Linked DNA regions of Homo sapiens. The protein of the gene in region 1 interacts with the protein of each later gene in a biochemical or structural test. Each region holds a gene or a part of one and is shown on either strand. Other genes may lie near its edges.

Evidence for each region. Proteins that work in one complex are often made in the same cells at the same time.
Region 2: the proteins of PRX (region 1) and DRP2 form a complex in vitro, tested with the Homo sapiens proteins (one study listed by BioGRID).

What each region holds. Positions count from the first base shown.
Region 1 is NC_000019.10:40,395,878-40,403,865, forward strand, and holds part of PRX (periaxin), read right to left. Parts: intron 7,986-7,988; coding exon 7,829-7,985; intron 3,428-7,828; exon of another isoform or gene 3,380-3,427; coding exon of another isoform or gene 3,298-3,379; intron 2,940-3,297; coding exon 2,743-2,939; coding exon of another isoform or gene 2,680-2,742; exon of another isoform or gene 2,094-2,679; coding exon 1-2,093. UniProt on the Homo sapiens protein: Scaffolding protein that functions as part of a dystroglycan complex in Schwann cells, and as part of EZR and AHNAK-containing complexes in eye lens fiber cells.
Region 2 is NC_000023.11:101,222,786-101,230,278, reverse strand, and holds part of DRP2 (dystrophin-related protein 2), read right to left. Parts: intron 5,676-7,493; 5' UTR 5,573-5,675; intron 1-5,572. UniProt on the Homo sapiens protein: Required for normal myelination and for normal organization of the cytoplasm and the formation of Cajal bands in myelinating Schwann cells.

The DNA.
Region 1 (7,988 bases):
GCACCCGCCTCGCCTGGCTTGCCACGTGATGGGGACTCTGCCCTCCCTAGCTTGGGCATGGTCATCTTGGGCATCTTGAAGCCAAATTCCATCCCTTCTGCCTGTTCTGCCTTGGTGGCCTTTAGCTGCACCTCCGGAGCCCTGGGCAGCTTCACCTCTGGTGCCTTCGGAAGATGCACGTCGGGAACCTTCGGCACTTGCATTTCCGGCAGCCGAATCTCTGACACTTTCGGCAGCTGCACCTCGGGGAGGTGCACATCGGGCACAGCCATCTCAGGCACCTTGGGGAGTTTTATCTCTGGGAGCTTCATGTCAGGGACTTTCATTTCACAGACTTTGGGCAGCTGCACCTCTGGGAGGTGCACATCGGGCACGGCCATTTCAGGCACCTTGGGGAGTTTCATCTCTGAGACTTTTGGCAGCTGCACCTCGGGGAGTCGAACCTCTGGCACAGCCATCTCAGGCATTTTAGGGAGTTTCATCTCTGGGACTTTCGGGAGCTGCACTTCCGGGAGGTGCACATCGGGCACAGCCATCTCGGGCACCTTCGGGAGTTTCACCTCAGGGAGTTTCATCTCAGGGAGCTTCATCTCTGGGACTTTTGGAAGCTGCACTTCTGGGAGGTGCACATCGGGCACGGCCATCTCGGGCACCTTCGGGAGTTGCACTTCAGGGAGTTTCATCTCAGGAAGTTTCATCTCAGGCACCTTTGGAAGCTTCATCTCAGGGACTTTCATCTCTGGCACTTTCGGCAGCTGCACCTCTGGAAGCCGCACCTCTGGCACAGCCACCTCTGACACCTCTGGGAGTTTCATCTCTGACACTTTCGGCAGCTGTACCTCTGGAAGCCGCACCTCCGGCACAGCCATCTCTGGCACCTTTGGGAGTTTCATCTCCGACACTTTCAGCAGCTGTACCTCTGGAAGCCGCACCTCCGGCACAGCCATCTCTGGCACCTTTGGGAGTTTCATCTCTGACACTTTGGGCAGCTCTACCTCTGGAAGCCGCACCTCCGGCACAGCCATCTCTGGCACCTTTGGGAGTTTCATCTCTGACACCTTGGGGAGCTCCACCTCTGGGAGTCGAACCTCTGGAAGGGCTGCCTCGGGCACTTTTGGAAGCTTGACCTCAGGAGCCTTGGGGAGCTTCACTTCAGGTCCCTTGGGCACCTTGACCTCGGGCCCTGACACTCCGATGCCAAGGGAGGGCATCTTGATGGTGGGCAGCTTCAGCTTGCTCTCTACAACTTCAGGAGCAGCGGGCCGGGGCTCCAAGAGGGAAAGCCCAAAGGTGGGCATTCGAAGTCTGGGACCTTTCACCCTGGCCTCAGGGCTGACCTTGGCTACCTTGGCCTCAGCAACTTCCTTTGCTCGAGCCCCAAATCGGGGAAAACTAAGGCGGGGCATCTTCAGGGCCACCTCAGGTGCCTCTCCCCGGGCCTCCACCTCTGCACCCGGCAAGGCCAGGTCCACCCCCACAGTCGGTGCTGCCACATCCAGGGTGGGCACCACTACCGACACAGCCCCTTCCCGGGTCTCTAGGCAGGGAAGTGTGGGCAGAGTGGGCAGTGAGGGCAAGGCAGGCAGCTCCACCTGGGGGACCTGGATTCCCACGGCTGGGGCCTCCACAGCAGGCGGAGCCGGGGCTCCGAGCCCAAGGGTTGGCAGGTGGAGGGCAAAGCCACCAGCTGCCTCTGCTGAGGGGGCAGCCTTGGGGGCTGAGACCTGGGGGACACCCACCTCCGCCCCTGGCAGCCGCGGCCCAACCAGCTCCACCTGAGGGGCTGTGAAACGAGCTCCTGCAGCCACCTCAGCCTCCACCTTGGCTTTCCTGGGGGGAGGAGCGGCGGCGGCCAGCCGGGCTGCCTGAGCCTCTTCGGCCACTTCTCGTACACGCAGCCGAGGCAGCTGGAGGCGCCGGCGGGCAGGGGCAGCCGGGACAGGACCCTTGACAGCCTCGGCTTTGAGGCCCCGACGCAGGCGGGAGAACTTGGGAAAGGAGAACTCGACGTCAACAGGGGCCAGGTCAGCGGGGACCCCCAGAGCCCCAGGCACCATCTTCTTCTTCTTCACAGGGGACAGACTCTGGATGTTCTGGGGAGAGAGGAGAGAGGCAGGAGGCGGTGGGACAGTGGGAGGCTGGGAGTGGACAGGAAGAGCCCCACCTGGTATTGGACCAGGCGGGGGATGTGCTGGGTCAAGTATCTTGTTCCCCAAACATCATCCCCACTTCTTGCCTGTCATTTCACCATGAGTGCCCAGGAAAGCAGGCAGCCATCTAGGATCTCCAAATGAGTCAACAGGAGTGTAGGGACGGGGACCCAAGACTTCTAGATCCTGATCCGGGATTTTCCCCAACATCCTCATTCTAGAGATGGGGAAACTGAGGCCCAGGGAGAGAAACAACTTTGTCCAGGGCCACTCAGCAGTAATTGGGCCAGCACTCAGGCTGGAATCTGGCTTTCCTGGTTCGAAGTAGCCTGGTTCAGGACCCCTAGCAAGCCTGGATCCGATGGTGGGGACGCCTCTCCGAGGTGGGTGAGGGCCCTGGGCTGGGGTGGGTCTGTCCCCCTTCCCGGGGAAGAGTTTGGGGCAGAGAGGAAGGGGCAGAGGGTGGAATTAGCTTGGGTTAGTGACAAGACAGAGGGCAAGGCTGGCCCACGATGGCGGGGAATGGGGCTCACGGCGCAGAGACCGGATCGCTGGGGCAGTCCAGGGCCGGGGCCGGGCTAAGCACGCGTACCAGCTTGGCCACCTTGGCCCGCGGGCCCTTGATCTCGTAGCCAGACACGGTCCCGGGCCGCAGAGCCAGGTCCCCGGTGGGCACAGTGCGCTTCAGGCAGAAGGAGACTTTGTAAGGCTCGGCGCATTGCAGCAGGCGTAGTGCGTCCTCGTACTTGAAGTTCTCGAAGAACACTCGGGCACTCAGCAGCTGGTCCCCTGCGGGCGAGGTGGAGGTGCGCAGCACGTGGGCATCTCCCGGCTCCGCCCGGGCCTAGTTCTGCCCACTTGCACGGAGCCCTCGCGGTGAGGACCCGCCCCAAATTTTAGTTTCTCCAATCCCCAGCGCAGGATTAAGTCGCAGTTACGCTAGTCCCCGCCCCATGACCTTATCCCCGCCCCCTGCAATGAACAAAGCCGCGCCCACTCAGGCCACGCCCGCACCTTGTCGCTCCCCTACCCATCCTTACGTTTCAGATACTGACTTTGCTTCTTTTACCGAGAGAACAGAATCAGAAGGGAACTTCCAGAATCTCCCACACTGTGTGTTCACCCCCTTTCTCCTGCGGCGACTTACTCCATTCGCCTTCCTGTTCCTGGGGATGAACTAACCCCACTCCTAGCTCAGGGCAATCTCTCCACCGCCTTCTCAGGGACATCCTCCAGCAATTCTCTCCTCTTCCCACGTCATCAGTTGTCCTTCTCGTCTACATTATTCCCATCAGCATACAAACATATTATTATTTCTCGCATAAGAAAGGTTGTCATGGCCTCACTCCCCCGGAGCTCCTGCCCCATTTATCTGTTCACCTTAATAGGCAAAAGGTATTGAGTTCTCCAGTGGCATTGTTACCAGTTCTCCAGTCACACCTCTGACCCTGCTTTCCAACACGCACATCTGAACTGCTCCTCTCAAGGTTCCAGGCAGTGACCTCTGTATAGTAAGTCCAAGGGTCAAGTCCCAGGCCTCATCTGCTTAAACCACTCAGCATCTGATCTAACCTCACTCTCTGTCATATCCTTGCTTCCCTTGGCTTCCAAGGTGCTACACCCTCTGGAGCGTCTCTGGGAGTTCCTTGTCAGTCTCCATAGATGTTTGCTTTCCCTCTCCCTGATTTCTTTCTTTCTTTTCTAAACAGTCTCACTATGTTGCCCAGTCCAATCTCAAATTCCTAGGCTCAACTGATCCTCCCACCCCAGCCTCCCAAAATGCTGATATTACAGGCGTGAGCCACTACACCCAGCTTTCTTTCCTTTCTTTCTTTCTTTCTTTCTTTCTTTCTTTCTTTCTTTCTTTCTTTCTTTCTTTTTCTTTCTTTCTTTCTTTCACCCAGCTTTCTTTCCTTTCTTTCTCTTTCTTTCTTTCTGTCTGTCTGTCTTTCTTTTCTTTTCTTTTCTTTTTTAGATGGAGTTTTGCTCTTGTTGCCCAGGCTGGAGTGCAATGGCGCGATCTTGGCTCACTGCAACCTCTGCCTCCCGGGTTCAAGCGACCCTCCTGCCTCAGCCTCCTGAGTAGCTGGGACCACAGGCATGCACCACCACACCCAGCTAATTTTGTATTTTTAGTAGAGACGGGGTTTCTCCATGTTGGTCAGGCTGGTCTCGAACTCCCGACGTCAGGTGATCTGCCCGCCTTGGCCTCCTAAAGTGCTGGCATTACAGGCGTGAGCCACCGTGCCCAGCCCCTCCTCTTTTTTTTTTAAGACAAGATCTCGCCAGGTGCGGTGGCTCATGCCTGTAATCCCAGCACTTTGGGAGGCCGAGGCAGGTGGATCACCTGAGGTCGGGAGTTCGAGACCAGCCTGACCAATATGGAGAAACCCTGTCTCTACTAAAAATACAAAATTGGCCAGGCATGTTGGCACATGTCTGTAATCCCAGCTACTAGGGAGGCCGAGGCAGGAGAATCACTTGAACCCGGGAGGCGGAGGTTGCGGTGAGCTGAGATCGTGCCATTGCACTCCAGCCTGGGCAACAAGAGCGAAATTCCATCTCAAAAAAAAAAAAAAAAAAAAAAAAAAGACAAGATCTCACTCTTCACCCAGGCTGTGGTACACTGGTGCAATGACAAATCACTGCAGCCTTGAACTTCCAGGCTCCAGCGATCCTCCTGCAAATGCAGGCCCGTGCCACCACACCCAGCCTCTCTGGCCTCTTAAAGACACACTACCCCAGACCTCAGGACTTGGACCTCCTCTCTGTCTACATGCTCAAGTCACCCCTTGGGAATTCTTGGGAAGTTCATCCAGATTGAGAAGTTAAAAGACCATAAATCTGCTAACAATTCCCAAGTATATCTCTCCAGTCCAGCACTCTCCCCTCCACCCTAGACTCACATCCAACATCTCCATCATATCTCCACCTGGGTGTCCCACACCACACCTCTCCTTTAACAGATCCAAACTGTACTCCTGGTCTTTCTTAGTACTAGCCTCAGTGTGCTCCTTTTGAGGGACCAGCAACTCCATCCTCAGGTCAAAAATCCCCAGATCCATCCTGGACAACCCTCTTTCCATCATACCCAATATCCAGTCCTCAAAGCTCCTCCTTCAAAATATATTCAGAATCCAAATATATATATACCTCCAAAACCCTTTGGTCCTGAGCATCCTCATCTCTTACCTGGATAATCACAGTAGCCAGTTTGTTGATCTCCCTGCTCCTAAACCTGCCTTCATATATTCTACTGTTTGTTGTTGTTGGCCTTGTTTTTGAAACAGAATCTTGCTCTGTTGCCCAAGCTGGAGTGCAGTGGTGTGATCATGGCTCATTGCAGCTTCAGTCTCCTGGGCTCAAGCGATCCTCCCGCCTTGGCTTCCCCGAGTGCTGGGATTACAGGTGTGAGCCACCCAATGCTTGGCCATACTCTACTGTTAATGCAGCAGTTCAGCACAGTCAATTCACGTTTCTCCCTGCTCACAGCCCTCACAGAATAAAAGCCAAAGTCTTATAAAGCCCTCTAAAAAGTGTCCTCCCCTTACCTCTCTGGCCTTCTCTCTTACTCTCCTCTTCACTAACTCAATTGCGTAGACACTGGCTTCCTCACTGTTTCTACCACAAGCTAGGCATGGTCCCACCTTGGGGCATTTTTGCTGTCTGTTCCCTCTTCCAGATGGCCTCATAGCTTGTTCCCTTACCTCCTTTAGCCTTTTCACCCTTTCCAGCCCACCCCTTTTTTTTTTTTTTTTTAGGCGGAGTTTTGCTCTTTCGCCCAGGCTGGAGTGAAGTGGCGCGAACTCGGCTTACTGCAACCTTAAGCAATTCTCCTGCCTCAGTCTCCTGAGTAGCTGGGATTATAGGCGCCTACCACCACACCCGGCTAATTTTTGAATTTTTAGTAGAGACAGAGTTTCGCCATATTGGCCAGGCTGGCCTCGAACTCCTGACCTCAGGTGATCAGCCCACCTCAGCCTCCCAAAGTGCTAGGATTATGCACCCAGCCAAGCCCACCCCCATTTAAAAATGCAGCTGTAGGCCGGCCTCGGTGGCTCACGCCTGTAATCCCAGCACTTTGGGAGGCCGAGGAGGGCGGATCACGAGGTCAGAAGATGGAGACCATCCTGGCTAACACGGTGAAACCCCGTCTCTACTAAAAATACAAAAAAAATTAGCCGGGCATGGTGGCGGGTGCCTGTAGTCCCAGTTACTAGGGAGGCTGAGGCAGGAGAATGGCGTGAACACGGGAGGCGGAGCTTGCAGTGAGCCGAGATCGTGCCACTGCACTCCAGCCTGGGAGACAGAGCAAGACTCCGTCTCAAAATAAATAAATAAATAAAATAAAATAAAATAATAAAAATGCAGCTGTAGCACATTGTCCTCCTGGCAACTGTAGCACTTACTGCTTTCTAATTTACTAGGTATTTTACTTAATTTGCTTAAATATGTCTCTCCCGGCTGGGCGCGGTGGCTCACACCTGTAATCCCAGCACTTTGGGAGGCCGAGGCGGGCAGATCACGAGGTCAGGAGATCGAGACCATCCTGGCTAACACGGTGAAACCTCGTCTCTACTAAAAATACAAAAAATTAGCCGGGCGTGGTTGTGGGCGCCTGTAGTCCCTCCCAGCTACTAGGGAGGCTGAGGCAGGAGAATGGTGTGAACCCGGGAGGCGGAGCTTGCAGTGAGCCGAGATTGCGCCACTGCACTCCAGCCTGGGCAACAGAGCGAGACTCCGTCTCAAAAAAAAAAAAAAATCTCTCCCCACTGGAATGTAAGCTCCATAAGTGCAGGGACTGTTGTTCAGTTTTGTTCACGGCTGAAGCCCAAGCAGCTAAGATAATGTCTGACATAGGGTGGGGCACGGTGGCTCACGCCTGTAATCCCAGCACTTTGGGAGACTGAGGCGGATGGATCACCTGAGGTCGGGAGTTCGATACCAGCCTGGCCAACATAGTGAAACCCCGTCTCTACTAAAAATACAAAAATTAGCCGGGCGTGGTGGAGGGGACCTGTAATCCCAGCTACTCAGGAGGCTGAGGCAGGAGAATCGCTTGAACCAGGGAGGCGGAGGTGGCAGTGAGCCGAGATCGTGCCATTGCACTCCAGCCTGGGCAACAAGAGAGAAACTCCGTATCAAAATACATAAATAAATAAAGTCTGAAATAGAAGGCACTAATAAATAGTTGTTGCATGAATAAATCACGTCAGCTTCATCCATATCCTAAAACATCCTTTACTCTTCCCAACCCCTCTAAGTGGCTCACTCCACCCTTTTCTCCTGCCCCAACAACAAAAACATTTACTAGCACTCACATAGTTAAGCACTATGTGCCACTTAGCTATGTGCTAAGTGTTTTCACATACTGACTCGTTAAATCCTCAATACATAATAACCCCATACTAGAATAAGTCCCATTTCAGAGATGAGAAAACTGAGGCACAGAAAGATCACAAGCTAGTAAACGGGGGATGTGAAATTCGCACCCAGACAGTGAACCTCCGGAATTTGCTGTGAACAGTCAGCAAAGCCCCGCCCCAAGCCCTTAACCCCTCCTGGTCGCCGGTCACGCCCCCATCCCCCGGTCAGTTTCAGCCTCTCTTTGGACCCAAGGCAGATTCCTAACCCCGCCCCCGCAGTTCGACCCCGCCCCACACCCCGGGCCCGCCCACCTTCCTGCAGGCTGAGGCTCCTGGCGGCGGGTGAGTCCTCGCGCAGCTCCCGAACGAAGATTCCCTCTTTGCCGCCGCCCGCTACGTTGATGCCGCTGACCCCGGTCTGCGCCTCCGTCTCCACGATAATTTCCACCAACTCCGCCCGCCTCAGCTCCTG
Region 2 (7,493 bases), on another chromosome or scaffold:
TGCTGGGATTACAGGCATGAGCCACTGTGCCTGGCCGAGATTTGCATTTTAGAAAGAGCCCCCTGCCTTCCTTATAGAGTGATTCTCCAAAAGGAAGAACCTGTTGAGAAGCTGTTAGAATAGGCAGGCAGTTGCCGTGAGGATGAAGCAGACAGCATGACTCTGAGGTACATTGGAGAGGTAAAATACACTGGGCTTGATGATCAATTGGATGTGAACAGTAAGGGAGGAGAAGGAGTCAAAGGTTTCTAATTTGGGAGCTGAGTGGATAATGTTGCCAACAGCAAGAGAAGGAAGACAGGAGAAAGAGTAAATTTGCTGTGTAGGGAATAGGGGCAGTGTTGCATAATAAGCTATGCTTGAGACATATTCAGCTTTAGATGTAAAGAGCTAAGCTTAGTAAAGGAGAAATATGGGGACAAAGTTTAGATGTACAAACCAATTGATGGTTTAGAGAATGTAAACAAATGTGATGAGAATGGGTGGCAAAGATGATGCTTGCAAATAATAAGGTGATCTCTTTTAGTGTGGGGCAAAGACACACAAACCCTGATTCAAAGGGCCGGAACTGAGCATCTTTTATTCATGATGCAGATAATTAAATAACCACCATTTTTAGACTCTATTCCAGTGGTTCACAATGTTTTAGATATAAGAGGCCCTTCTTAAGACTAAAAAAAAAAAATCTCACTTCACCCACTCTCACCCACAATAGTAGCTGTACTTTTAGAACTTACCGAGTGAGAAAAACATTTATGCATTTAAAGATATGTGGACTCCTTGCATTAAGTACCCACCCCTCCTCCTCAGGAGACCATAGTCCAAAGAATGGAGATTATTACAAATCACAAGGGCACAAGAGGTTGTGGTCTAAAGGGTACTTTGTTGTAGTCAAAGTCCCTATAGATTATACAGCTATGTAGCTACTCATCCCCAAAGAATGACTGAAAATATGGCTCCTCTGTGATCAGACACCACAAAAGCATTAGTCACTTAGATTAAAAAATGAAGTACTGCTATGGATGTGTTATAAGCATAAAGGCTACAAGAGGCTTGCTTTCAGACCTCTTTTTATGTTAACATTTTTATTTTTGCTGATTATAGAAGTAATACATGTTCTTGATAGAAAAACTGGGAAATACAAAAAATAATAAGGATGAAAATAAAAATAATCTGTAATATTACCACCCAGAGATAATCATTACTAACAGCTATGAACTTTAGTTTTTCTCTGAAAAATATATACATACACTTTTAAAATAAAATCGCCATCACATGCTATCATTTCGTAGCCTGCTTTTTTCACTTGCCATTATATCATGGTCATTTTAGAATGTCATTAACTATTCCCTTAAAACATGATTTTTTTTTTTGAGACAGGGTCTCTCACTTTGTCACCCAGGCTGGAGTGCACTGGCGTGATCTTGGCTCACTGCAACCTCCCAGGCTCAAGAGATCTTCCTGCCTCAGTACCCCCAGGTAGCTGGGACTACAGGTGTGCACCACAATGCCTGGATAATTTTTTGTATTTTTGGTAGAGACGGGGTTTTGTCATGTTGCCAGGCTGGTCTCAAACTCCTGAGCTCAAGTGATCAGCCTGCCTCAGCCTCGCAAAGTGTTTATATTACAGGTGTGAGCCACCACGCCCAGCCTAAAACATGATTTTTAACAGCTGCATAGGAAGTACAGCACTGTGACTGAGGCCATGGGCACTGGCATCAGACAGACCTAGAGTCAAATCCACACTATTCAACCTATTAGCAGTGTGGTCCAGGACAAGTTAACCTCTCTGAGCCTCAGTGTCCTCATCTGCAAAATGGGGATAAATAATGATAGCATCCTCACAGAATTATTCTAATGATTAAAGTTAATAATTTAAATAACTTAGCACAGTGTCTGGCAACAATACACAACTCAATAAGTGTTAGCTATCGTCATTGTATAGTATCCCACTGAATGGATACACCATAGTTTAACAATTAGACATATGTTTATAGTTCTTCTTTTTTATAAATCAAAGTGCAGTGAACAACCTTGTGCATATTTGTGATTCTTTCCATAGGATAATTGCCTATAAGGGAGAATTCCTGGATCAAAGCGTTTATGATACATATGTCTAAATTGCCCTAGAAAAAGTTATATCATTTTACACTACTACTAGCAATGTATGAGAGTGCCAGTTTCCCAGCACACTTGTCCACAGTATGTATTCTTACTTTATTTGCCAACTTTGTAAGTGAAAATGGCATTTTGAGGATTACTTTGCGTTTCCTTAATTGCTAAAGATATTTAGCTTTTCCTCCACACTTTTAGTGGTCGTTTGTATCTCTTCTTTCATCAACTATCTCTTTTCTTCTCTTTTGAGATTCATTTCTCTCCAGATTATAAGATTCTTTCTTATTCCTCTACTGACCTGATGCTAGGTTAAGGCTTCACAAAACAAAACTAAGATAAACCAAGGAGTCAGAGAATTCAGACCTTCTAATCCTAACACAGGCAGAAAAGGAATAGATTTCTTCTGGTCCTAAAATGACTATCCTCTGCTCTTTTTAGACTTTGCCCCTGACTGTGACCTCAAGTCATATTGCCTCTCTAGGCCTTAGTTTGCTAATGTATCAAGTGTTAATGTTTAAGGGTTGCTAAGCACCAAACACTATCATTCTCTGTATTCATATAGCATGCCTTTGTAGTCGGCTGTGCTGTCTTTCATGATCCTCAGTACAACCTAGTAAAGTTGTCCCAGTCAGAATTAAGATCCCACTTTACAGATGAAGATGCTGAGACACAAGTGAACCAGGGCCTCCTGATTCCTGGGCGAGTACTCTTTGTTATACACAAAGATTCTTCTGCCTCTATCTAGCTCCATCCTATCTCAAATCACCATCTGCACATACTGATTTTTTTCCTATTCCTCTTTTTAATTTGCAAAGGCTATGAGAGATTGAAGATGAATCAGACTTGGTCCCCAACTGGTCAAATGTAGGAAACAAGACATATAAACAAACAAAAAAAAGGATAATTTTAGCGGGGAAAATTATTCATACCATACGTGGGTGCTGTGGTTTGAATATCTGTCCCCAATGTGACAGTATTGAGAGCTGGAGCCTTTAAGAGGTGATGAGGGCTTTGCCCTCATGAATGGATTAATCCACTCATGGATTAATGAATTAATAAGTTATCACGGGAGGAGAATTCATGGCTTTATAAAAAGAGGAAGAGATATCTGAACTAGCACACTAAGCCCTCTAGCCATGTGATACTCCGTGCCATCTTGGGATGCTTCAGAGAGTTTATGACAGCAAGAAGACTCTCACCAGATGCAGCCCCTCAAACTTGGACTTCTCAGCTTCCATAACTGTAAGAAATAAATTCCTTTTCTTATAAATTACTCAGTTTCAGGTATTCTGTTATAAGCAACAGAAAATGGACTGAGACAGCAAGACACAGAAATTATGGTATAAGAGGTCACAGAGGAGGAAGTGTTCACTTCTAGTTGGAGGGATTTGGGATGTATTTATGGAAAAGAAGCTTTCGAGCTAAGGTGAAAGAGAAGATTTTGACATATGCAGGTGTGGAGGATGCTTTTTGGGTGGCAATAAGCCTTCCCTGCCCTCCCCTAGGGACCCTGCTGGATACCAAACTGTGGCTTTTTGCTACTACAAATACTCTTCCTGGTTCTAAAAGCCATACACAGGCTGTTTGAGGAGGATTCAGTGGGAAGGCATTGTTTCTCTTGAGCAGAGATAAAAAGCTTTAAAAACACAGGGGAGATATTAGGATTTCAGCATGAAAGCAAGATTGTTGGCTCATGGGGGACAAAACCCACACCTGATATTTATTTATATCCCACATATTTTTAACACAGTGCTAGGCACCCATAAACTGGAGATGTATAGGAACATATGCTACTTAAATTTGTGTGGAATAATGTACAATGTTAGCATTTGAAACAAGTACAATAATAAGTACAATGTCAGCATTTGAAACAAGGCTTGAAATGGCAAAAAAAATTGCAAAAACTTAAACGTCTATCACTAGGGGACTAATTAAATAATGGTGTATCCATACAATGGAATTCTATACAGCTACTTAAAAAATAATTAAGAACTCTTTATATGCCAATACAAAATGATCTCTTATGATATACCTTAAGTAAAAAGAAAACAAGAGAAAAATCAAGGTGGTGGTTAGTCTACATTTGTATACTAAAAATATGTGCTTATAGATGCAAAAAAATATCTTTGGAAGTATACAAAAGAGCCTGTTACCATTGGAGAAGGGAACTGAGCAGTAAAAATTCTCCCCATGTCTTTGGGATTTCTACTATTTCTGCCCTTTTCAAAATGAGAAATATACCTATAAAAGTACATAAAGCATATATGTAAAGTATATTAAATTATTATAAAGTAAATTCATATAATCACTTCTCAGGTTGAGAAACAGAATTATTCCCCACACCACATAAGCCCCATGTTGCCAATAGGAGATAAAATTTTTTACTAAATATCATTTTGTACTTTTTGAATTTTGACCCATGTGAACACATTACCTATTTAATAACAGCTAATTCTTCGCCCCCTCTCCGCTCCCCACCAAAATACAAGGAGGTCAACAACTATTTTATGGAAAGATTGGTGTGCCAGCTTTTCCATAATCAAATAAATAATAACTGTATTCTGTGTTTTATATATATTAACTAAGCAGTCTACATACATTAACTCATTTAATCCTTACAACAACCCTATAAAGTAGTTACTATTGCTATCCTCATTGTGTGGATGAGAAAATGGGGGCACAGAGATGGTAAGTAACTTGTTCAGAGTCATATTGTGAATACATCGTGAAGAGCTGGGATTTGTACCCAGGCAGTTGTGTCTCAGAATACAAGTTATTTATCATTATGCTATTCTGCCTCTGTAAATTCTAGAACCCAGGCTCTGAGGCATTGTAATCACTGATACCTGGAAAGTGTATCCATACAATGGATACAATGGAGACAATTTTTGGCTATAGACCACCAGGTGCGAGCCCAAGCATTGACTCAGTTATGCCACTACCCAGGCAAAGACACAAGCAATTAAAAACAGATAAGATGCAGTGAGTCTAATGGGGCAGCACCAGGCTGGCAAATCATGAAAAGCACTTAAGTGACCTTTATAGGACATCTGAGAAGTGAAATTCTGGTCAAGTCTCCTATTTTAAGCTCAGAGCCTCCCCAATGCCTAGAGCTCAATAAATTTTTTTTTCAATAAATAAGCTCTTTCCACCTAGAAACCAGAGAAATCTAAGAGCCTATGTTACAAAAAGACCTCCAGAAGTGGACAAAGATGTTTGCTGCAGTATTGTTTGCAATAGCAAAAATCTGCATTCACTCAAATGTCCACCAGCGGGGGACTGGTGAGTAGACTATGTCTGAGACATATCACAGCATTATTGTCTGGGACATAGGCTCTGAACCAGGATGCTCTGGCTTGCACCTTGGCCACTTATCGGCACATATATGGACAAGCTCCCCAACCTTACTGTGCTCCAGTCCCCACATCTGTGAAACAGGGATAACAAAAAGACCTACCTCTTAGCTTTGTTGAGAGGAGTTAATTCATAGTTTCTGGCATTTAGTAGATATTCAAATGTTATCTATTACGATAGCCACTCACACGGCGAATATTATGTAGCTGTTAAAAAGAAAGAGGTAGATCTATATGCACTGATTTGGACAGATTTCAAAGTTATATATTTTAGGCCAAAGAAAACAAATGCCAGAATAGCATGCTTAGTGGAACTCCAATTTTGTAAAAACATTTTTAAAAAATCTACTGTGCGCATGCGCAGAAAGGAAGCCTGGACATCCGGGTTTTTTGGGCTTTTTTTTGTTTTTTTTTTTGAGACGGAGTCTCGCTCTGTCGCCCAGGCTGGAGTGCAGCTGGAGTGCAGTGGCATGATCTCGGCTCACTGCAACCTCCGCCTCCTGGGTTCAAGTGATTATCTTGCCTCAGCCTCCCAGCCGAGATTGTGCCACTGCACTCTAGCCTGGGTGACATAGCGAGACTCCATCTCAAAAAAAAAAAAAAAAAAAAAAAAAAAAAACAAAAAAAACCCAGCAAACATTTATTATTCTTGGGAGAAAAAATTCAAGAGATAGGGAAGACTTCTAAGATGTAGAGGTTCTGTAAAGAACAGGGCAATGGGAAGGCGACCCCCTTCCCATGGGCTACAGAATCCTCTCCCCAATCCAAGGTAACACTGTGTAACTGCCTTTTCTCTCATACCACTGGCTTTCTACCTGACAGCATGGCAGTAAGAGAGAAGATACACATTTCACTGGTAACAAACTTTGTTATAGTTCCTAAAATAATTCCTGCAATGCACCCAAAAAACCAAGGTTCTGCTTCAGATGTACCTGATTTAATGAATAAATCATAGAAACTCAGATTTTCAAGCTAGAAAGGACCTTTGAGATCATCTAGGCCAATCCCCTCATTTACAAATGAAAACAAGGAAACGTATTCCTGAGAAGTTTAGCTGTCAAGCAATTTTGAGAAATAAAATTTATTATCCAATTAAAAAATCAGAGATGCATCCCCATGGGAGAAAACTCTAAGAGCCAATTAATGCAATAAACCTGAAACCTTTATACACTGATGGTGGGAGTGTAAGTTAGTAAACTATTTTGCACAGTGATTTGACAATATCTCCCAAAGGTGACAATGCACATACCCTGTAAGGGGACAATTCCACCCAGATATTTACCCAGTAGAAATTGTCACCTAAGAATAGCTACACAAGAATGATCACAGTACCTCTGTGATTGCTCAAAACTAGAAATAGCCTAAATGTCCATCAACAGCAGAATAGATAAAGTGTGGTATAGTCATTACAGGAGTATACAATAGTGAAAAAAATGAGTAAACTAGAGACCCGTGTTACAACATGGATGCTTTTCACAAATATAACATTGAATAGAAAAAATAAGTTTCAAGGCAGGTGCAGTGGCTCATGGCTGTAATCCCAACACTTTGGGAGGCTGAGGCAGGAGGACTACATGAGGCCAGGAGTTTGAGATCAGCCTGGACAACATAGCAGGACCCTGTCTCTATGAAGGAAAAAAAATTAGCTGGGCATGGTGGTGCCACCTGGGGGGTGGTGAGGCTGGAGGATTGCTCCAGCCCAGGAGCTCGAGACTGCAGTGAGCTATGATCACACCACTTCACTTCAGCCTGGATAACAGTGCAAGATCTCGTCTCTTGGCGGGGAGAAAAAAGAAAAGAGAAATCACGTTGCAGAAGAATACGTATGATACACCACTGATACAAACTTTTAAAACATATAAAGCAGTAGTATATGTTGTTTAAAAATATATACATGTGTAGTAAAAGTATATAAATCAATGCATGGGAATAATAAACACCAAATCCAGGATAGTGGTTACTTTGGAAGGAAAGAGAGAACTTTAATCATGGAGAATAGACAGAAGGTTTCAACTCTACTGGTAA